3 separate regions of the Homo sapiens genome follow, and all the other regions are linked to region 3. Evidence: fine-mapped expression QTL. A gene starts in region 3. Each other region holds a variant in brackets. All regions are shown on one strand. Distances are from middle to middle.

What was found. PIP is the estimated chance that this variant, and not a neighbour inherited with it, causes the effect.
Region 1: its variant is fine-mapped to the expression of STX2 in whole blood (TOPMed, PIP above 0.99).
Region 2: its variant is fine-mapped to the expression of STX2 in whole blood (INTERVAL, PIP 0.92).

Annotation. Positions count from the first base shown.
Region 1 is chr12:130,799,768-130,807,771 of GRCh38, reverse strand. It overlaps STX2 (syntaxin 2), which reads left to right. Exons shown (of 11, transcript NM_194356.4): 6 at 682-790; 7 at 6,284-6,357; 8 at 6,482-6,619. Among named protein-coding and RNA genes, the nearest start is that of STX2, 35 kb to the left of the region's middle. RefSeq lists an enhancer at 956-1,878. The variant G/C (reference allele first, on the strand shown) is at 3,210.
Region 2 is chr12:130,809,446-130,817,449 of GRCh38, reverse strand. It overlaps STX2 (syntaxin 2), which reads left to right. Exons shown (of 11, transcript NM_194356.4): 4 at 4,419-4,493. It also overlaps the pseudogene LOC124903117. Among named protein-coding and RNA genes, the nearest start is that of STX2, 26 kb to the left of the region's middle. RefSeq lists an enhancer at 3,342-3,581 and a silencer at 5,584-5,767. The variant T/C (reference allele first, on the strand shown) is at 4,757.
Region 3 is chr12:130,835,302-130,843,305 of GRCh38, reverse strand. STX2 (syntaxin 2) reads left to right here and starts at 4,056. Exons shown (of 11, transcript NM_194356.4): 1 at 4,056-4,236. The coding sequence starts at 4,207. RefSeq lists silencers at 3,853-4,362, 4,433-4,492.

The DNA.
Region 1 (8,004 bases), 36 kb after region 3:
TAGAAATCTCTTTATTGTGAAGAAAAATCTATTCGGTCCATCAACAGAGTTCTATTCCAAAGAGTAGGGAATTATCCAAATGATTTTAGTGTTTGTGGTAAGGCCGCCACGTTTTAGTGGTTTGTGGTACTGCCCAGAGGAAGACAGAGCCCTGAGGCCTCGAGGGCACGAGGCGATGAAGCACGCGGGCTCTGGGGTCCGCCTGCCTGGGTCCCCTCATGGGCACAAGGCGATGAAGCACGCAGGCTCTGGGGTCCGCCTGCCTGGGTCCCCTCATGGGCACAAGGCGATGAAGCACGCGGGCTCTGGGGTCCGCTTGCCTGGGTCCCCTCATGGGCACAAGGCGATGAAGCACGCGGGCTCTGGGGTCCACCTGCCTGGGTCCCAGTGCTGATCTGTGTTTATCAGAAAAGCCTGTGACCTTGGGCTAATGACCTCAAAGTCATGGTTTTCTTTAAGTAGGGTTGTGACCGGCATAGTAGGGGTCTTGTAAAAATTAGGTAAGATCATGCATGCAAAGTTCTTAGCACAGATGCTGCCATGGGGACTTTGCCATTGTCATTTTCCATTTGCAGGAGCAGAATAACATGTAGTTTGAGTTTCCAAAATGCATGTCTTGCATGTCACTTTCAGTAGAAGGCATGGCCCTCAGATACGAATGTAGTTTTCCTGTGTTGTTAGCATTCGGTGCTGTCTCGGAAGTTTGTGGAAGCCATGGCGGAGTACAATGAGGCACAGACTCTGTTTCGGGAGCGGAGCAAAGGCCGCATCCAGCGCCAGCTGGAGATAAGTGAGTAATGGAGACTCCGTCTTTGTTAAAATCATGTTTTTCTCCCTTAAGGTCTCACTTCAAATGACTTTAACTTCAGAAAAGGAAATCCATGTCTATTTTCACCAATAGTGTAAAACCCAAAGACCACTCGTAGCTTCCTATGCCGTGAGTCAGGCAAACCTGTTCTTCCTGTCTTCAGGAAGTCCTAAGCGGTGGGGTTTACCTTGCTCATTGCTGTTGCTTTTAGAGTTTCAGGGAGATTGGGAGAGTGCTCAGTCATTTCCTCTTTGAGTGTTTCTGTGTCCTCAGTCCCGCCCTGCCCTGGTTCGGGGGCATCTTCATGGCTCCTCACATCTCTCCTTGTCTGTGAGCAGAGGCAGCGGCCCTATTGCCCCAGACTCTTTTCAGGGGTGTCTATGGGGACAGTTGGCTGTGGCAGTGGAGATGGCGCCTTCTTCGGGGACAGACGGGTCTGTTTCAGGGATAAAGGTTGGTCAGGTTTGTAGACTCCCCATTGTGAAAGATTGGGGTTCCCAAGCTCGGGTCCTTCAGCTGTGACACAAACCCACTGTGAGGACGTCCCACTGCAGCTGCTCTGCCTCTCCCCATGAGACTGGGGGCCGTGGACAGCTGCTCATGAGCCTCAGGTTGCCTGCTGTGCTGTGAGTAGGAAATCCCTTTGTCCCTGACCTGGGGCCTTGGACCTTCTGCCGGCCCCCACGGAGCCCTGGCAGGCCAGCGTGTCAGCTCGCAGGTCAGATGAAGCCTCAGGCCCATCCCGGCTCCCAACGCCGCACATCCCCCTCAGAGAATGTTGTCATATGCCCGCCAGGCCGCTTGACCTTGTCCCACAGCTCAGCGAGGCTCCTCATGTTTTAGATACTCTTTTCCAGTGTGTTTGGTTTTGGTCAGTTTCTCTTGCTTGTCTGATCTGCCTTTAACCTCCTCTGGTGTATGTTTCATCGGAGACACTGGTTTCTGTTGCTAGTTCTGCTGGGTGTTTTACATGTCTGCTGTGTTGCTCCCCACTGTACAACTGGGACGCACTTGTAGTAACTTGAACCGTCTTTGTCTGCCAACTCCAGTGTCCTGTCTGCTCTGGTTGGTTGATTTCCTTCCTTTCTGTGGCTTGTGTTTTCCTGCTTCTTTGCGAGCCTGGTAAGTTTCGAGTGTGTGCCAGACATTGTGAACGTTACTTTGTTGGGTGCTGAGTATTTCTGTATTTTGAGTATTTTTGTAAATCTCCTTGGGCTTTGTTTTAGAATGTAGTTAAATCACATGAGCATGGTTTAGCCTTTGGGATCTTGCATTTAGAGGGAGCAGAGCAGCTTTATTTGAGGGCCTGTCATTCCTCACTCCTGAGGTAAGACCCTTCTGAGCACCTGCTCTGATGGCCGTGAACCTCATGGCACCCTCGTCTGCCTGGCAGCGTGTTCCCTCTGGCATGCTGGTCAGCACTCCAGTGAGCATGCGGGGTCTGTGCAGCTCGCTCTCTGCATCTCTCTCATCTCTCATACTCCATCTTGCAAATCCAGTTGCCTTGGTCTCCCCTGAGCTCTGTGCCTTTGCCTTAGGACTTCCCCTGGGCTCCACCTGGGCCCTTTCTGCTCTGTGGCTGACACGAGAGTTCCGTCTGAGGGCAGCAGCAGGCTCACCTGGCTTGTTTCCATCTGTTGGGAATCAGTGTGTGGCCTGATGCTCAGTGTCTTGGAAATCGTTTTGTAGATTTTGGTGGGTTTGTGGTTATTTCAAGTGGCAGGGAAAATACGGTCCCTGTTGCTCCATCCTGGCAGAAATGCTCAATCATGATGTCGACTAGACTGCTTTTCTATGAAAAAGTTTTTACAAACCACTTTGACTTCAGGGATCTGTTAGTACTTTTTAAAGTGAAAGTCATCATTACAGGCAGCCGGTTGCACTGTGAGGATTTATGCTCTGGGACTCTGTGGTGAGCGCTTTTCTAGCACAGAGTTCCCCAGCCTGGGCTTGAAGGCCCCGCACCATCTCTCCTGCAGGTCCATCCTGTCTTCACTCCCCATGTGAATCCGGTGGCGTGATCAGATCGCCTAAGTCTCTTCTCTCTTTCCCACATTATTCTATCTCAGCCCACAGAATTCATTTCCAGTTTCTTCTCTTGCAATCATACTCTATCGAATGCAGTACTGTTTGTGAAAGTGTCTTATAAGCAATGAAGTATCATATACGTGTTGGGAGTTTTTTTTAGTAATTCCTTTAAGTCTGTTAAATTCTAAACCCTCCATGTGGCTATTCCGAAGTGAGCAGGTCTATGCAAACTCACCCCCAAAGGCTGAGCGAGCTGAGACGCCAAAGAAAGAGGCTAACAAATCCAGTTTCTCGAAGGAAACATTGGCTAGGGACGTACGAACAGAAGCCCCCGAGAGACAGAGACGGTGGACCCCACAGCCGCCTGCCCTCA[G/C]AAAGTGTTCTTTATACAGCAGGCTTTCAGGGTAGAACGTGTGCAGCCGGCCCTGTCTTCTGACTTGCTTGACAACACTTGGGACCACTGGTCAGGCTGGATGAGCATCTTGATGAGAGGTTGCCTGTGCCGGAGGCATCGTCTTCAGACCTCATTGCAGAACAGCTTGGCATGCACGAGTCGAGCATCGGTCATCACGGTGGTTTTGCTTCAGGATGGCGTCACTCTGGCCACACAGCGGGCTGTCTTCATACAGTGGTCTTCTCCAAATCCTTGCACCTAAAACCATTTTGTCCCCTTTCTTTCTTCCTTCCGTCAGCCCTGTCATCAGGCAGGTTTCTTACCTTGTATCACAGGATATCTTTTCCTGTGCTGTATGCTTTGTTTCTTCAAATGGCAAGTGAGTTTCTTCTTGGACCAGGGCATGTTACATAGGTCCACAGTGCTTTCTCTGGAATGGTTGGGGCTGTATGTGTTTCAGAGTTCAGAATTTTTCAGATTTTAGGAAGATAGTACAATGTATAAGAGGTGTATTATGTAATCCCCAGGTGGGGTCTAGGACTGCACCCTGTAATCAGGCACATTCACACAGCTCTCCAGTGAAATGTGAGTATTCACAGTAAGGGGGAGGAGTTAAGATTATAAATAGCCATGACTCAGTTTAGGTCAGATTTTGCCGCTCATTGAATTTTGACATCGAGCTTAAGGAAAACCCAGTTTTCATAATGTTGTGGATTTCAGCATTCTGGATAAGGAATTACGAATGTATACTGCATTTCACATTCTGTAACCCCAGGCTGTTTCTTAGACTTAGCAGTTAGCCGGTGGGAAGACCTTTGTGAACGTGAGACATGAACTGTAACTTTTAGTTTGTTTTTTTTTTTTTTTTTTTTTTTGAGAGAGAGCCTCACGCTGTCACCCAGGCTGGAGTGCAGTGTTGTGATAACCACTTATTGTGGCCTTGAACTCCTGGATCCAAGGGATCCTCCCACCTCAGCCTCTCGAGTAGCTGGGACCACAGAAGCACACCACCATACCTGGCTAATTTTATTTTTTGTAGAGACGAGGTTTTCACTATGTTGCCCAAGCTGAAATTTCTAGTTTTGATGATTATATTTTACATTATTTAGAACAAGTTTCATGTTTTTAAAAAAGCAAAGCAAAACTCAGAGAATCTCCTTATTGAGCTATTTTGAATAGATTTTTAAGTTTTATTTTATTTTTTGTAGAGATAGGGTCTTGCTGTGTTGCCCAGGCTAGTCTCAAACTCCTAGCCTCAAGCAATCCTTCCACCTTGGTCTCCCAAAGCACTGGGATTATACATGTAAACCACCATGTGTGCTCTCAAATAGATTTTTAAATGATTGAGAATTACCTCCCAAAAAATAGTGTAAGTAAACAAATTTTGCAATTTACTAACTTTAAAACTTTTTTCATTAAATGACATCTCAACAACTTTATTGAGAAGTAAATCTCTTAATATGTGAATGATATTTGGAGCATACAATTAATTCAGTGGTTTTTGGTGTATTTCCACACACAATCAATTTAAAACACTTTTATCAACCCAAAAAGAAACTTCACACCCACCACCAGTCATTCCCCATTTCCTCTCCTAGCCCAAGACAACTGCATTCTACTTTTTACTCCTGTACATTTTCCCATTTTGGATGTTTCATATAAATGGAATTATACACTATGTGTTCTGTGACTGACTTCTTTCCTGTAACACAGTTTTTCCAAGGTTTCACCATGGGGTGGGCAGGGTGTGGTGGCTCACATGTATACTAATCCCAGCGTGTTGGTTGGGAAGCCAAGGTGGAAGGATCGCTTGAGGCCAGGAGTTCAAGACCAGCTTGACAACATAGCAAAACCCCATCTCTGTAAAAAAAAATAAAAATAAACCAGGCATGGGTGTGTGCCTATAATCACAGTCACTTGGGAGGCTGGAGCAGGAGGATTGCTTGAGCCTAGGAGGTCAAAGCGGCAGTGAGCTGAGATTGCACCACTACACTCCAGTCTGGGTGACAGAGTGAGACCGTATCTTTGTTAAAAAAATAAAAAGGGCTGGGTACGGTGGCTCACACCTGCAATCCGAGCACTTTGGGAGGCTGAGGTGGGCAGATCACTTGAGGTCAGGAGTTCGAGACCAGCCTGGCCAAAATGGTGAAACCCCACCTCTACTAAAAATACAAAAATTAGCCGGGCGTGGTGACGCACGCGTGTAGTCCCCACCACTCAGGGGTCAGAGGCATGAGAATTGCTTGAACCCGGGAGGAAGAGGTTGCAGTGAGCTGCGACGGTGCCCCTGCACTCCAGGCTGGGCGACAGAGTGAGACCCTGTCTCAAAAAACAAAGCGACAAAAACCAAAAGCGTCCTTTGTTTTTGTGGCTGAGTCGTATGTCAGTGTGCAGCTAGACCGCAGTTAGCTCCTTCAGGCATCGGGGGACGGACGTTTGCGTTGTTTCCACTTTTTGGCAATTATGAATAATGCTGCTTATTAGATGACATTTGAATTATGACATTTATTCATTTACTTTTGTCTTCTGTGGCACAAACTATGAAAAATAGTAATTAACAATTAGGTTTCCAAAACCTGTGTACATGTTTCTTCGAAGTCATTACACATTTAACTCAAAAGGAAAGCATTAACTTCCAAACATGGAAAGTGTTCAGGCATCTGACTCTCATTACGTGGACTTTATTGATCCTCATTTAATACATGCTACATTCAGCTCAACCCCCTTTTACATGAGGCGGAGTTAAACTCTTAGGGAAACCAGTGTGCCGAGACATTGTTTACCGATTTCCTTTCTGCAGTTGTTTCTCACTAATATTAAAATGAAATTTTATTGTTTATAACATTTACAAAGTTTCTCGGAGTATTTTTATTTCTTCTTGCTCCTCAATCTTAGGTTCACTTCTCATTGTCAATATCTGCTTAAGAAAAGGTTAAAAAAATTACTGAAAAATGCTAACAACTATGATTGTAGTTGCTAACTTATGGTTGCAAATGGCTTTGTTTTTAAATTGTGCTGCATTCTGAGTGGGGCTGTGGTTGCGGGTCTTTCAGCTGGGAGAACCACCACAGACGACGAGCTAGAAGAGATGCTGGAGAGCGGGAAGCCATCCATCTTCACTTCCGACGTGAGTGGGGGTGCGGCCCTGTGGCTCCATGTCCTCTTCTGTAGACAGAGCTTTTTAAAAACCCTTTAACTTCCAAACCCATCATAAGTTTATTAATATTATCTTTTATTTTTGTTTTTCCAAGATTATATCAGATTCACAAATTACTAGACAAGCTCTCAATGAAATCGAGTCACGTCACAAGGACATCATGAAGCTGGAGACCAGCATCCGAGAGTTGCATGAGATGTTCATGGACATGGCTATGTTTGTGGAGACTCAGGTAGTTACAGACTCTTGCATTCTCCAAGAGAGATATCAGTCATGTGTAAAATCTTACTGCATCCCACTCTGTCTAGTGGATGTATCTAGGAAAGCTGTTATTTTGGATCCACCAAATTCAGGTTAATTGCAGTGTTATATGTGATGCTGAAATGCTGGAAGCAGCTTTAACAGTTGAACTGTTAACAGGAAGGGACTGGTTCAGTTGATTAAATTATGGAGTGTTCATAGGTCAGCCTTTTAGGCAACCATAGGCAACCTAAACTTTGTTCATGGAGAATTCTTACTGAAATATGCAGATGTTTGTGCTAGAATTAAGAGAAAAGGGAGATACAAAGATCTTCTGTGTATGCCCGTACATATGTATGAGTACATAAACACAAACACATGGCACGAGCTTGGCTCCATAAAACAGTATCCACAGAAGGAAAGGCGTATATCAAACAGTGTAATGGCAGTGAGACTATGGGAATTTTAATCTTCTCTAAAAGTATTTATTTTCAGATTTTCTATAAGAAGCATATATTACAGTAATAACTAGGAGAAATGTCTGAAAGAATCAACCCCAAGTGGGGATACAATCTATGACACAGATGCAAGCTTGTGCCTGTTACACGGGGTTTCCCATCTGCCCAGTAACACAGATAGGGAGTGAAAGCAGGTGTGGAAAGGCCCTTCTGAGTGAACCGAAGAGTTAATGCAATTCTTAATAAATAGAAAACTCCTCTGGGAGGCTGAGGTGGGAGGATTGTTTATGCCCATGAGTTCAAGGCTGTGGTGAGCTATGATCATGCCACTACACTCCAGCCTGGGTGACAGAGTGAGACCCTGTCTCCAAAAAAAAAAAAAAAAAATACACACATATATATGTATGTATGTATATATTGAACTCTCCATGTAAAGTACGGGATGGATCACAGATCACATGCTCTGTGATGTGCATGGGTATGTTCACACTCGCTCTTTGTCTTTGAATAAGGTCTTCTCGTTATTTTTCAAATACCATGGAGATAAGACTCTGTTGCTGGTTAGGATTCAGCTGACCACCAGGTGAAGCGGAAGCATTTATATCAAACCATCCTAAGTAAATGGTTTCCTCACTTGTCCTGAGCCTGGTTTCGGATCTGTTTTGGCTGGAGTCATCCCCTAAGTAGGTTCACATCTGATGGGCTTATTTTCTGAGACTGCCTGGATTGTGTAAGGATAGGAATCCATCCACACACAGGATTGTTCCTGCCTGCTTCAGCAACCTTGTTAAGAAACACTGTATTTTGAAGAACTTTATAATGAGAATGTGTGTGAAAAACTCAGGCACCATGCCTATTTTTTTTTTTTTTTTTGAGACAGGGTCTTGCTCTGTTGCCCAGGTTGGAGTGCAGTGGTACA
Region 2 (8,004 bases), 26 kb after region 3:
CCTCTTTTGTTCTCTATTTTTCATCATTTTTTCTCTATATATTTTATTTTGAAAATGTTTTCCCTGACTTATCGTTTGATTTCTCTTCAGCGATTGTCTTTCAGGTCAGGGAATCTTTCTTCATCTATGGAATTATTTTTGGATTGGTTTTAACTCCTAGAATTCCACTTGGTTCCTTTTAATACTGTCCTATTCTCTGACAAAATTTATGATCTTACATTTTATCTCTTTGAATGTAATTGTTTTAACGTCTGTGTCTTGTAACTTTATTAGCTGGTGCCTCTGTGGATGGGTTAGTGTTGTCTCTTTTTGTTGGGTTTTCATTCATGTGTTTTTTTTTTTCTTTGTTTGCCTGGTTATTTTTGATTGAGTTTTGAGCTTTGTATTGGAATTATTTGCAGTAATAATTTGAGTCCTGAATGGTATTTTCTTTTTAAAGAGATGATTTATTTTTATTTCTGGCAGATGGCTAGAAGCACCAGCAATTCTGGATCTAATTTTAGGGATTGAGATGATTTAGACTGAGGCTTCAGCCCCTGCGAGGGCCAGCTTCCCACCTGACTGTTCCTCCTAGGGCATTGTCTCTCCAAGTCAGCACAGTTTTCTCAGCTTCTCTGCAGCTCAGCTGCCTTTTATGGAGTTGGCACATGCCCCCAGGTAAAAGTGGCTGCAAAAGTGGGGCCCATGTCTTTGGGTTTTCTTCTTCTGAGTCTTCTTTCCTGCCTTGTTAGGTTTCTTTTGTTTTTATTTCTTTTTTTAATTATTTTATTTTATTTATTTTCGCACCTTGTTAGGTTTCTAATGGCTTTACACAGATTTAGAAAGAGTATTGTGTCTACCCTTTCTAATTGTTCTCAGCAGCAGGATTGAGCTGAATCACCTAGGCCGCTGGAAGAGGAGGTTCCTGATCCCCGTCTGGTCTCTGATTTGAAATACCACCTTTATCAAATGTGACCTTATGGCCTGCGTCTGCAGCTTGCAGGATCAGACAGGCAGTGCCTCTTTTGTTTTGCTGATGAGTTGCTCAAGCCCCGTGGGCCTGTAGTGGCAGCAAGTTCACTCCGTCATGAGTGCCCCCCACCCCTGCTGTGTAACGGCCAAGGGCTTTCTTTCCCCAGGGGAGTGAGTCCTGCTGTGGCCCGCCAGCTCAAGAGGGAGACTCTCATCCACTGGCAGGCCCAGCTCTCAGATCTTGTGGTTTCTGTGGCTGCGCGGTGGCTCAAGACCGTCTCCCGAGTCTAGTCGTCCTCAGCTGTGCTCAGGCGCTGGCTGGGCCGGACCCCTGCACAAATGCCCTTGCTGTGTGTACGTTTTAGCTTCGACTCCTACACTCAGCCCTCATTCCCCAGGCACAGTGGCCAGGCCTTGGGGGTGTTTGCATCAGCCTCACGCACCACAGGAGCCAGCACCCCTGCCACAAACTATGGACCTGCCACCCTCTTTATTCATAGCAAGTCTCTCTAATTCCTGTCAAATGCCCCATTTTATAAGGCATTTTGTGTTCCCTTTACTATTCTAAAATGAAGTTCATAGATGATATAGCCTACCTACCTCCATGATTTTAAAAAAACATATAATATCCAAACTAATATGAAGGAGACATAAAATGGAAGTAACTTACATATTGAAGTACAAATTGTATTGTGCAGGCTCAGGCACAACACCAGAAAACAAAATTCAGGCGCTTGCCCCCCTACAAACAAGTGCTGTGACTGTCACAGCCAAGGCTGCAAGCTGATGAGGTGCTGTGATTCAGCTGCCGTTAGCAGGCTTCCCTGTGCTTTTCCTGAGGCAGTAGGTGTCACTGAAATAGACTGAAGTACAGCTTTCTCGCCATGCAGAGCGGTGACACGGCAGTTGCATTCCTGAAAATCCACTGGATATTGAAACGATGCAGATGAAAACAGGGCTTATTTGTAAGCTGGAGTCAGGTTCTGGGCTCAGGAAAACAGGTCTTTTCTCCTGCCTGAGTGAGCAGCGTGCATCTGGCAGTTATGCAGGCCAGTGGGTGATGTGCTGATGTAATGAGGTTCGAGGGTGGCACATCTCACACGCGCACGAACACCCCGTCGTCACGCTCAGGAACTACAGGAGGATGGAGGCCAGTTCTTTGTTGTGTGGTGCTGGCTGGTGCCATTCCTGGCTTATGTCTTCTGGATGCCAGTGGCTCTCCCTTTTTTATGATGACTGGAAATACCCCACAAATTTCAGAATACCCCTTGGGGTGGTAGAAAGATTCCCCTGAGAATCTCCCTTTAGAAACATGTTCACAGAGGAGAATCACGAAATGACCCCTTTGTGTCTAGTTTCTCTTTTTTTCTAGTTTCATCCATTATCAGAATAATTTTTCTTTGTTTTTTCTTTTTCTTTCCTTTTTTAAATAGAGATGGCATGTTGCTAGTTGCCCAGGTTGGCCTTAAAGTCCTAGGCTTAAGTGATCCTCCTGCCTCAGCCTCTGAAGTAGCTGGGACTACAGGTGCACGCCACTGTGCCTTGCTTAAAAATAATCTTTTTAGGCTGGATGCAGTGGCTCACGCCTGTAATCCCAGCACTTTGGGAGGCTGAGGTGGGCGGATCTCGAGGTCAGGAGCTCAAGACCAGCCTGGCCAATATGGCGAAACCCCATCTCTACTAAAAATACAAAAATTAGCTGGGTGTGGTGGCGGAGGCCTGTAATCCCAGCTACTTGGGAGGCTGAGGCAGGAGAATCGCTTGAACCCAGGAGGCGGAAGTTGCAACGAGTCGAGATTGTGCCACTGCACTCCAGCCTGGGTGACAAGAGCAAGACTCTGTCTCAAAAAAAAAAAAAAAAAAAAAAAAAAGTCTTTCTAATGCATCTTTGCTGATGCCTTTCTTTGCTGAGAAACCTTCAGTGCTGACTGGTGCCCTCAGTAAAAGCCCCAAACTCAGCTGGGCCTGCACACTCCTGCCCAGGCAGCCTGTAGTTGGCCTCCTCCCACGCCAGTCACTACAGCCCACCGTCCCGCTGCTCTGTGCCATAGACCCTTCTTCTGCCTGGAATGGAAGCCACCAGTCTCTCCACTCCCAGGTCAGATGTCCCCTCCTGTGGGACAGCTGCAGCAGACGCTTCTCCTCCTCGCTGCCCATGGCATTTTGTGAACCCTGTCTCGTCCGTTGTTAGTCTCTGCGTGGCATTGGCGCTTCCTGGGTTTGTCTTGTCTGTTTTTACCGAGTTGTTAGGTCCCTGGCGGTCTTGTTAGCCTCCTTAGATGACACGGGCCTGCACACAGAAAGTACTCAGTAGGTGTCACTGGTGCGTGACCTGTCACCTCTGGAGATCACTCAGTCTCTGATCTGGCTCTGAAACCCTGGACGAGCCAGGCTGCGTCTGATGACTGTAGCTGAGCATGGAAAGAAGACTTAGCACACGCTTGTGTGCAGTGGGTACTCGGGGCACCCTGCGTATGCTCAGCTGAGGGGGTGTCAGGAAGAGAGTGGGCATCTCTGAAAGCTTTCATTCTTGGCCAAGTTGTCTACGGCAGAAACGTTTGCCTTTTCCCCGGCTGATGCGTGTGAGATTGAGTGAGAGAGGCAAGTGCAGGACTCTCTAAAACGACAACAGGACTCCAGAGACGGGGCGGGGGCCTTCCTGTTTCAGCAACTTCTGCCCAAAGGAGAGAGAAACCCCCTTCCCTTCTGGTCACTTCAGCCACTGGACTGGCAAATGTGAGTGTGCGGCATGGAGCAGACATCCTGCCACCCTCCCTGGGCTCTGGGGCAGCTAGGCATGAAAGCAGAGGCTGCTATGACGCCCTGGGTGGCCTTAGGTCTCAGCACTGCCCTGGAGTGTCAGCTCCTGCTCTGCTGGCCTCCCTCCGTGTTAGGAGGCCGGCCCCTGCCTCCATCGCCCCCTGCTTGCAGCCCTGAGTGTCTGAGAAGCCAGGCCAGGGCGACCGGCCCAGCAGCCCTGAAGTGGTGGCTGTGATTATTCGGGCGTTTTGGGGAGACAGCTGACAGCACAAGAGAAAAGCACACACACGGGAGACTTTGTTGAGATCATCGTTACGTCTCCGTTTTCCTTTCCCAGGTCTAGGTGTTAGCAGTGGATTTAGGCAGCAGTTTCATTCATGGGTATAGAGCAGCAAGTCTCAAACTTGTGTCACCTGGAGGGTTTGCTAACTCAGATTGCTGGGCCACTGTCCCCACCTCAGTTTCTGAGTAGGTCCAGGGTGGGCCCCAGGGATTTGTGTTTCTACTAAGCTGCCACCTGATATTTATGAAAGCTGCTGTCTAGGGACCCACCTTGAGAACCACTGGTATAAGCGGTAGTTTTTCTTACAGAAAAAAAGTGAATATTTACTAAGGATACTGTTTCACTTAAATTTATTGGATATCATTTATGTTGGATATTATAGCTCAGATGCTGTATTTTATTTTTTAATTTTAAATTTTTATAGAAATAAAAGAAGAGCTTGAAGATCTGAACAAAGAAATCAAGAAAACTGCGAATAAAATTCGAGCCAAGTTAAAGGGTAAGTTTGAAGTTTTATGTTTAATTATTGATGTTGGGAGTATGGGTATTTGTTATTTTTTTCTTTATTGGTTTTTGTTCTTTTACATTTTTAAAAATTAAAATAGTGACTGCTTTAAAATAAATTATTTGTATGTAATTCAGAGTACTAATTAATATTCAAAAAGGTTATGTGTTTGCTTATAAACTGTTATACTGTTACATTTTTGATGACATTTCAGGCTAAGTTGCAGATGTTTGGGAAGGTGAGTTGCCAGGCTCTTC[T/C]TGAATGGACCCTTTAATTGCTCATTTCTTTCAAACTTTCTGTAGAATTTATTCGATGATGTTTGGCATTCCACTTTAGCAGCAGTAGTTTTTTGGGAGGCTTATAGCTTTGTCATGTAAAACAGGGGACTTAAACAGAGGTTGCTTTTTCTCGATTTGGTAGAAAACATGTTGTATTTGATTTTTGCAGAATGGCATCAAGATCAAAAACAATCTCTGTGCAGATGATAAAATACTTTTATTACGGCAGGTTTCAGATGTGTGCAGAAGCAGAGAGAGGCGACCACAAGCCGACCCCCCAGCTCCACAGTTCTCCATGAGCTCCCACCCGCACCCGCTCCCAGACTATTCTGAAGCCCATCCCAGGCATCTGAGATTTCATCAGTGTGTATTTCAAAAACAGAAGCTTCCCCAAAAGCACAACCACAATTATATCTAAACCCAAATTCATTATAATTACTTAATAGTACAGAATATCCAGGCAGAATTTCCCCAGTGGTCTTACGATTTTTTTTTTTTAAACAGTTTGCTTGAATTGAGTCCCAAATAAGGACCAAACCCTGGCTTTTAAAAATGAGATTCTCCCTTCATGATTTTTCTCTCTGCACTTTTTCCTTTGGTTGGTGAAACCAGGTCATTTGTCCTACAGAATCTGCCATGCTGCAGATTTTGCTGATTTTACCTCTGCAGCACATTTAATAGGCTCTGCCGTCCTCTGAATTTGCTGTAGGTTGGTAGTTAAATTCTCCAAGCTTTATCTGATTCAGGTGTTTTTTGTGGGTTTTTAAAATGTAAAGATGCAGCATCTGATTACAGATTTTATGTCCTCATGGTTACGTTAAGATGTTAATGGTGGCCTGGCACGGTGGCTCACGCCTATAATCCCAGCACTTTGGGAGGCCGAGGCGGGTGGATCACAAGGTCAGGAGATCGAGACTTATCCTGGCTAACACGGTGAAACCCCGTCTCTACTAAAAATACAAAAAATTAGCTGGGCGCAGTGGCGGGTGCCTGTAGTCCCAGCTACTCAGGAGGCTGAGGCAGGAGAATGGCGTGAACCCAGGAGGCAGAGCTTGCAGTGAGCCGAGATCACGCCACTGCACTCCAGCCTGGGCGACAGAGCAAGATTCCATCTCAAAAAAAAAAAAAAAAAAAAAGATGTTAATGGTGACATTAACATTTTTTCTTGGCTCTAAGTAAGTTCAGTAAAATTTTAAATAAGATATAACATTCTTTTCTATTCTGTGATATTGTCAAAAATGGATGATTATTTCCAAGATCCATAATTCATTAGAAGTTGCAAGCAGTAATATCCTGATTTTTTTTTTTTTTTTTTGAGACAGAGTCTCACTCTGTCACCCAGGTTGAAGTGCAGTGGCACAATCTCGGCTCACTGCAACCTCCACCTCCTGGACTCAAGCGACTCTCCTGCCTCAGCCTCCTGAGTAGCTGGGACTACAGGCGCCCGCCACCACGCCTGGCTAATTTTTGTATTTTTAGTAGAGATGGGGTTTCGCCATGTTGGCCAGGCTGGTCTCAAACTCCTGACCTCAAATGATCCGCCAGTCTCAGCCTCCCAAAGTGCTGGGATTACAAGCATGAATATCCTGATTTTATTCTTCCTTCTTTGTTTAGTTGCTGGAATAGTTAAAAAGAAACCTTTCCCCTTCAACTCTTGAATTGGGTAGTTTGGAGAATTTAACTATGAGCCCACAGTAAATACAGAGGACAGCAGAGCTTACTGAATGTGTTGCAGGGTGAAATCAGCAAAATGTGCAGTGTGGCAGGTTCTGTAGGACGAATGACCTGGCTTCTCCAACCAAGGGAGCCAAAGCACATTCTGGGTCACAGATCATGGAGGACAGAGAGGATCAGCGTTGGACTCTCTCTCTCTCTGGTATAATTTTCATAGGTCAGTTCCCTGGGGTCCTCCAGAGATGACCAGGGAGAGTCTCTGTTGCTGCTTGTCGTCCATCATCGTGAACACATGGATTTAAACACATCTGATGTTTTCATTGCTGCATTATCCTTAATGCTCAGATGGTCTCTTTGGCTAGTAGGGTGGACTCTTGAGTCCTTTTGGTAGGCCCCTCATTGTCTGTGACAGCCTTTCCACTTTTTGCTGTGACAAAAGTCCCCATGCTCATTTCACCCCTTTCCTCCCTGGGCCTGGCATCAGCCATTTCCCCAGGAAGCCCTGCTCCTGTGTCTGAAGAATGTGATCTAGACACCGAGGTCAGCATGCTGGGGAATGTATTGCTATACATGACGATGACCTGACCATTCTTTCCTAGGCTTTTTCAGTGGACTGGGCTAAGATTTTTTTAAAAGATAAAATGAATCATGATTTGTTACTGAGAATCCAAATTAAATTAAGAATAAAGGAAGGACTAAAAATTTTTTTGAAAGGATTTTTACTTAATAAGGGCAATATTACATCTTTATTTCCTTTCAACTATGCCCCAAATTCTGGTTCTCACTGACACATAATTATTCACTTGCTATTCATAGTACACACACAACAGACTCAAAATAATTATGCCAGCATCTACTGTCAAGAGTATGATTACTTAAAGGTTTATTTTTTATTTTTTGTGTCATTCTTTTTGTCTATAGGTATATCCCACTGGGCTAGATAATCAAATTACTTTTTGTTGTTGTTGTTGTTGTTTGACCTGGGGTCTTGCTGTGCTGGCCAGGCTGGAGTGCAGTGACTGTTCACCAGTGTGATCATAGCGCACTACAGCCTCGAACTCCTAGGCTGAAGTGATCCCCCGAGCACTTGTGACTACAGGTACACGCCACTGTGTCCAGCTACAAATTACTGGGTTTTAAAGTTGCTTTGAATAGTTTTTCCTCTGTGTGTTTATTTTTTTGAGATGGAGTTTCGCTCTTGTCGCCTAGGCTGGAGTGCAATGGCACTATCTCGGCTCACTGCAACCTCCGCCTCCTGAGTTCAAGCAATTCTCCTGCCTCAGCCTCCCGAGTAGCTGGGATTACAGGCACCCGCCACCACACCCAGCTAATTTTTGTATTTGTAGTAGAGACAGGGTTTCACCATGTTGGCCACGCTGGTCTCGAACCCCTGGCCTCAAGTGATCCGCCTGCCTTAGCCTCCCAAAGTGCTAGGATTACAGGCGTGAGCCACTGCACCCGGCTCCTCTGTATGTTTATATCATTAACTTGACTTACTGTTAGGTTTGCTTTATTTTTTCTTTGAAGTTTAGGGATTAATTTTTTTAAATTTA
Region 3 (8,004 bases):
CAGGCTGGAGTGCAGTGGCACAATCACAGCTCACTTCAGCCTTGACCTCCTGGGCTCAAGCAATCCTCCTGCGTCAGCCTCCTGAGTAACCTACAGGCACATGCCACCATGCCCAGCTAATTTTTAAAAATTTTTTGCAGAGACAGTGTTTTGCTATGTTGCCCAGGCTCCAGTCAGATTTTCTCGGGAATGTAACTTAGCCCTTTGTTTCTCTTTTCTTTCTTTCTTTCTTTCTTTCTTTCTTTCTTTCTTTCTTTCTTTCTTTCTTTCTTTCTTTCTTCCTTCCTTCCTTCCTTCCTTCTTCTTTCTTTCTTTCTTCCATATTTCCTTTCTCCTTCCTTCCTTCCTTTCTTTTTCCTTTTTTCTCCTTCCTTCCTTTTTTCTTTCTTCCTTCTTTTTTCCTTCTTCCTCTCTTTTTTCCTTCTTCCTCTTCCTCTGCCTCTTTCGCGTTTTCTTCTTTAAGTTTTTTAAACATTTATTTATTTATTTATTTATTTTTTAGAAACAGGGTCTTGCTCTGTGGACCCGGCTGGAGAGCAGTTGCATGATCACAGCTTACTGCAGCCTCCAACTCCTGGGCTCAAGCAATCCTCCCACCTCAGCCTCCATGTAGATTTCATTCAATTTTAGTGTTTGGCTGTTATGATGGTGTTTTGAACGCACTGTTGTGATCTGGTTGATGTTTTGACCCCAAAAACACCTTGACTGCATATGTATGTATGTAATATGAACAAAAATGATAAATTACACATTATTATTTATCAGGGGAAATTCAGCCAGATATTGGGCAAAATTCATCCCCAATATTTCACGTAGGTTATTTTCTATTTCCCCTAAGTGTTGGCCGGTCTGAGAAATAAAGGGACAGAGTACAAAAGAGAGAAATTTTAAAGCTGGGTGTCTGGGGGAGACATCACATGTCGGCAGGTTCCGTGATGCCCCCTGAGCCATAAAACTAGCAAGTTTTTATAAGCGATTTTCAAAAGGGGAGGGAGTGTACAAATAGGGTGTGGGTCACAGAGATCACATGCTTCACAAGGTAATAGAATATCACAAGGTAAATGGAGGCAGGGCGAGATCACAGGACCACAGGACCGGGGAGAAATTAGAATTGCTAATGAAGTTTCGGGCAGGCACTGTCATTGATAACATCTTATCAGGAAACAGGGTTTGAGAGCAGACAACTGGTCTGACCAAAATTTATTAGGCGGGAATTTCCTCGTCCTAATAAGCCTGGGAGGGCTACAGGAGACTGGGGCTTATTTCATCCCTACAGCTGCGATCTGTATATACATATAGCTTGTATGTACTATATGTGTGTATATAGCATGTATACACTATATGTGTGTGTATAGTATGTATATACTATATATTTATAGTGCATGTGTGTATGTGTATATATATATTTTTTTAGACAGGGTCTCACTCTGTTGCCCAGGCTGGAGTGCAGTGGCACAGTCACAGCTCACTTCAGCCTTAACCTCCTGGGCTCAAGCAATCCTCCTGCCTCAGCCTCCTGAGTAGTCTACAGGCACATGCCACCATGCCCAGCCACCCCCAAAGCGGCCATTTCAGAGGCCTACCCTCAGGGATGCTTTCTCTTTCTCAGGGATGTTCCTTGCTGAGAAAAAGAATTCAGCAATATTTCTCCCATTTGCTTTTGAAAGAAGAGAAATACGGCTCTGTTCCGCCTGGCTCACCGGCAGTCAGAGTTTAAGGTTATCTCTCTTGTTCCCTGAACATTGCTGTTATCCTGTTCTTTTTTCTAGGTGCCCAGATTTCATATTGTTCAAACACACATGCTCTACAAACAATTTGTGCAGTTAACAAAATCATCACAGGGTCCTGAGGCGACATACATCCTCCTCAGCTTACGAAGATGATGGGATTAAGAGATTAAAGTAAAGACAGGCCTAGGAAATCACAAGGGTATTGACTGGGGAAGTGATAAGTGTCCATGAAATCTTCACAATTTATGTTCAGAGATTACAGTAAAGACAGGCATAAGAAATTATAAAAGTATTAATTTGGGGAACTAATAAATGTCCATGAAATCTTCATAATTTATGTTCTTCTTCCATGGCTTCAGCCGGTCCCTCCATTCAGGGTCCCTGAATTCCCACAACGATTATTCACAACTTCATTTTTTTTCTCTGGCAGGATAAGGAAAGTTTTGAGGTTGGGCATGGTGGGCTCATGTCTGTGGTCCCTGTGCTTTTGGAGGCTGAGGTGGGAGGATTACTTGAGCCCAGGAGTTCAAGGCGGCAGTGGACTATGACCATGCCACTGCACTCCAGTCTGGGAGACAGAATAAGACTCTGTCTCAAACAAACAAACAAACAAACAAAAAGTTTTGGTTGCCAATTCAACACCATCCAGCTGCTGCCAATATTATCATATGTTTTTGAAAAATCCACTGGGAGAGAGGGAGAAACGAGGGAGGGCCCAGTATTTACCAGAGAGGGAGAATTAAAATGGTGGTGGCAGAGGCAAGAAGGCCGAAAGAAAAGCACTTGCCTGTTGCGGGGTCCAGGAGGCATTCTGGTGGGGAAGTTCAGGATATGGAGAGAAAAAACATATCTTTTTTTTTTTTTTGGAGACGGAGTCTCGCTTTACTGTCCAGGCTGGAGTGCAGTGGTGCGATCTTGGCTCACTGCAAGCTCCACCTCCCGGGTTCAAGCAATTCTCATGCATCAGCCTCCTGAGTAGCTGGGATTACAGGTGCCCGCCACCACACTCACCTGGACAACTGGCTGTCAAGACCTTCCATCGGGTAACAGAACCACATCACACCTAGAACCAAGTCCAAAACGTCCTGTTTTTTAATGTGTAGCCTGTTGCTCTCAAGCAGATTTCTTAGCGCTGCCTTCTGGTCAGACCAAAGCCACCTCCTCCAGGAGGCAGTAAAGACTTTAACCTTGTTTAAAAACAAATCTGGCCTTGCCTTCTCCTCCTGGAAGGCAATCTTTGTTTGCCTGGGAGTCTTCGGCTAGCCAGAGAGTAACAGTGTGATTTATGGTGGGGGCTTAGGGTTACATGGATATCACTTAACCAAGAGGCTGAGATCAAGCATGAAAGCAATCAAACAATCAATCAATCATGCACATGCAATGGAGCCCAGTAAACGTTCTGCACACTGTGGCTCAAGTGAGCTTCCCTGGCTGGCAGTACTTCGTGTGTAAGGCCACACATCAGTGCAGGGCAAGTAATGAGGCCTGACTACACAGGGAGAGGACCACGGGAGGACCTTGAAGCTGCACGCCGTAATCCCCAGACTCCCCCTCTGCCCTTCTTCCTTGGCTGATGTTAATCCGTATCATTTTCCTGCTAAGAAACCATAGTTGTGAGTACAGTAGTTTTTAGTGTATTCTGTGATTCCTTCTAGCAAATTATGGAACTTGAAGGTGGTTTTGGAAACCGCCAGAATTTGCCGTTGGTGTCAGAGGTGATAATGGTCTTGGGGACTGTTCCCCCAACCTGGGTAGTTCACCTAAGCTCCTGCACCTTCATGACGACCTCTCTGCCAGTTCCGTGCCCATGCCCTTACTTTCTTTTCTCATCTATCATTTATTTGTCTGTGTCTGTATTGCCTGTTTCTCCTGCCAGAATGGTATCCCAGGGCTGGGCCTGCGGACGCTCTTCCCGTTACCGCCCCCTGCCGTGTTATGCTCCGTAAGCATCATGTGTGGTACACGATCTCTTCTCCTTCATTCACACCCGAGGCTGCGCGTGGACCCTTAAAGAGAAGGTTCGGCATATGTATTACCCAAAGCTGCACCCAGCACATTCCGGGAGCTTTGCTCTTTTGTCACTATTCGTTGAATGCTCTATATTTTGATAAATAAAACAATGAGTGTGAAAGCATAAAAGCAGATCAAGGGACAAACAGCACGTGTAGCGGAACTGCCAGCCTGGGGCTCGGCCGGACCCCGCCCCTCCCCGCCTAGGCCCCGCCCCCAGGCCCCGCCCCTCCGGGCTCCCGCTGGAAAGCGCTGCCGCCGTGTGGGTGGGTGCGGGGCGCGGCGCGGGCCGGGCATGCGCAGAGCGCGCGGGGCGCGGTTGCCGTGGCAGCGCCGGCTCCAGGGAGGGCTGCTGGCGCCGGGCCGGGACCGCGGGGCCTGAGGCGGAGACCGGAGAGCCCGAGGCCCGGCCGGAGGCAGCTCGGGACAGGCTTGAGCGGCGGGGCGCGCTGCCCGGCCGGCGGGGATGCGGGACCGGCTGCCAGACCTGACGGCGGTGAGCGGCAGCCGCGGGTAGCGGTTCAGGCCCGGCCGGGGCGGCGTCTGGAGGGCGGGCGGGGGCTCGGGGCGTCTTGGGCGGGGCTCCGGGAGGGTCCCCAGGGCGGGGATCTCCGGCGTTCTGGGGCGGGGGCTGCGGGCAGGGTCTCAGGGAGTCCTGAGCGGGGACTGCTGGTGGGGTCCCCAGGGCGGGGGTCCCGGGAGTCCTAGGGTGGGGGCTCCGGGCGGGGTCCCCAGGGCTTCCTGGGCGGAGTCCTCAGGGCGGGTTGGGGCAGGAGGAGGGAGCGGGGAAGGTCCCGGCCTCGACCCCCTCTTCGAGCGTGGCTCCCTGTCCGTCACTCCGCTTGGCGGATTGTATCTGGCGCTTACCCAGCCGGAGCCCACTGGCCTAACTGTGGTCCGCCCCACGGGGTCCCCGCAGCTGGCGTCAGCCCCGGGGAGCAGGCCGGGTCCTCTTGGTCGCTGCTTTATCCCTGGGGCTTCACAAAGGACTGTGCACCAAGCGGGAGGCAACAGATGGGTGTGAAATGTGGGCACCTTAGAGTGCTGGGTGCTTGGGGTGGGGCGAGCGCGAACAGCAGCTTGTGTCTGATCTCCCAGTAGTTTGCTTTGGAAACTGGGACCGTGTGTTGACTCTGAACGCACCTTACGCGCCCAGCAGCCGGGCACACAGCAAGTTACTGTTTACTTTAGCAAGGGAAAAGCAGGTCACTAAAAATTTTGGAAGGATTTCGATGCATTCTACACGTGTAAAGGTGACAGGACTGTGCATGGTGCAGTGACAGCGGAATGATAGTGATGGTCGTGCACTTTCCAAGCTTGTCTAACCCAGGACGGCTTAGGCCAGCAGAAGTAGTTATGACTTTTTCCCTTTACAATACAGGTACTAATTCATGCTACGTGTGTGCACAGATAGAGCCTCTGGTCTCTAAATTGTTGGCAGCCTCAGAACAGGGGTGCTAAGGCCCACAGCCCTACGACACCCACTGCATGTAATGAATTATTCTCTCTCCTCTGCTGCTAGAATGGAGCTGTTATGTACCCCCGAGTGGGAGAATAGAGAAAAGAGCCACTTAAATCATTATCTGTGTTCTGTGGTTCAGATGAGGAGCTCTGGTTGAGAAAGGCAATGATTTCATCCTTAGGATCATGGAAATTATGCTTTATATTCATTCCAAGGAAGTTTCTTCACGGTGATTTTTCCTTTTTTATTAATGGACAAATATTCCCTGTGTTCCGCAGATCAATATCATCTTAAACACAGCAAATTATAGTTGTGTTGTCTTGCCCGATGGATTATCTTTCAGTGCCGTGTAGTAGGAGCTCAGGTATTTATTTAATGAAGAAAAGCTGTGGCTCACTCCTGTAATCCCAGCAGTCTGGGAGATCAGGGTGGGGGCATCACTTGAGCCCAGGTATTGGAGACCAGCTTGGGCAACACAGGGAGACACTGTTTCTCGAAAAAAATTAAAAAATTAGCAGGAGGCCAGTCGCAGTGGCTCATGCCTGTAATCCCAGCACTTTGGGAGGCCGAGTTGGGTGGACCACTTGAGGTCAGGAGTTGGAGACTAGCCTGGCCAACATGGCAAAACCCCGTTTCTACTAAAATAGCCGGATGTCATGGCGCACACCTGTAGTCCCAGCTACTCTGGAGGCTGCGGCAGGAGCATCGCTTGAATCCAGGAGGCGGAGGTTGCAGAAAGCCGAGATTGTGCCACTGTACTCCAGTCTGGGCAACAGAAAGAGACTCTGTTTCAGAAAAACCAACAAAACAAAGCACGCACAAAAAAACTATCCAGGTGTGACTCGCACCTGTAGTCCTTGGTACTCAGGAGGCTAAGCTAGGAGGATTCCTTGAGCCCAGGAGATAGAGGCTGCAGTGAGCCATGATTGTGCCATGCCACTGCACTCCCGCCTGGGTGACAGAGTGAGACATTGTCTCATAAAAAAAAAAAAAAAAAGCTCAATGTCATTGAACGTGAGAGCTGTGACTATTTTGGCAAAATACAGCCAAATTTATATGTTGGGGAATCGTGAGAAAGTACGTTTTCTTGGCTTGAATAGCAAAAAGCAAATAAGGCAATTATTTGTCACTCAGTTTCTATATATCCAAACCCTTCCTGAAACAGTAGAACATGTCAATCAGTTTTGTTCTAGAACGGCAGAGCTAGAAGTCAGCTCATCTACTTCAATACCATCCTGCTTTAGACACAGCAGCTGAGCAGTCAGAGAGTATATCCGTGGAAGTTTCCACTCATGGAGTTTCTCATCTTGGGCAAATAATTTTTAAATCTCTCAAAACTTTTTCTTGTACGTGAAATGGGGACAGTGGTATCTCTCTTGTCCACCTCATAGAGGGAGTTATGAAGCATAAAATTATCTAATGTGTGAAGCTCTGGGAGAAGGTGGGAGGGAGCAAGTGCTATGTAATTATAAGTGTGATTAATGTTTACCAGATTTTTTGTTTTTAGGGAGTTATAAAAAGCAGCCTTCTGGCTGGGCACAGTGGCTTTCACTTGTAGTCCCAGCACTTTGGGAGGCTGAGGTGGGCAGATCATTTGAGCTCAGGAGTTCAAGACCAGCCTGGGCAACATGGCAAAACCCTGTCTTTACAAAAAACATACAAAAACTCAGCCAGGTGTAGTGGTGCATGCCTGTGGTTCCAGCTACTCAGGAGGCTGAGGTGGGAAGATTGCTTGAGTCCAGGAGGCGGAGGTTGCAGTGAGCCAAGATTTTGCCACTGCCCTCCAGCCTGGGCAACAGACAGATTGAGACCCTGTCTCAAAAAAAGAGAAAAGAACAACCTTCTCCCTAGTATAAAATAGTAAGTTAAAACTGAATTTGAAGTTTAATAACTTTTAATATTTAAAAACCCATCTTAAAGTTACCAGATACAAGTTTAATTCCCCTCCCCCGCCCCGCCCCAGGAAATGTGTCCTTTCCCAGTAGTTCTTAGAGTAGTTGAATGTGTACTCACAACCGTGCTTGTAAATGGCTGGTGTTTTTTTCTAGGTAAAGTTGAATATTTTGTTGGTTAAAATGCCTCATCAACAATGTCTGATTAACAAAGTATTTGTGATGCTTCCATGAAGTTTCTTTTCTTAGCTGCTGATGCTTGTTCCTGTGAAGAACGTGCCTCTGACAGTTACGTGGACAGGGCTTAAAGAGTAATCTGCTCAATACAATCTGTACTGACAGATGTAGTTTCTAACCAGTGATGCTGTTTTTGAGCAACCAGTCATTTGGGCATAGAAAGTTTGCGTGACTTGGTCCAGATCTCTGACACTCTAAATCCAGAAAGATATTTCTGATTTACAGAAAGTAAAAGACTCGCCCATCCAGCAGGTACTTGAATGTCAGGCCTCTAGCAGATCATGTGCTGGGTGCAGAGAGACACAGCAGTGAACTGAGCGTGGGTGGGGATGCATGCAGCCTGGGAAGGAAGAGTGACCGAGGTGTAATGAAATTCACTGTAGGACGTAAGCAAAATGGAATAGCTATTCTATAAGATAACCACCCCAAACGTATTTTGATTACTTTTTAAAAAAAGTTTATGAACATTGATGTATTTATATTTGATACATATATATGATATATCTATTTATTATAGTGAAGAATAGAGAAACCACACATTTCATCTGTGGGAATTGTTTGCATGATAATAAACAATAAATACACAGTAGCTGTGTGGTGTTCTTAGTAGACCTAAAAGAAATGAGAACGTTATTTTTCATCCTGGTTTCAAGGTGATGAATTGCAAATCTCT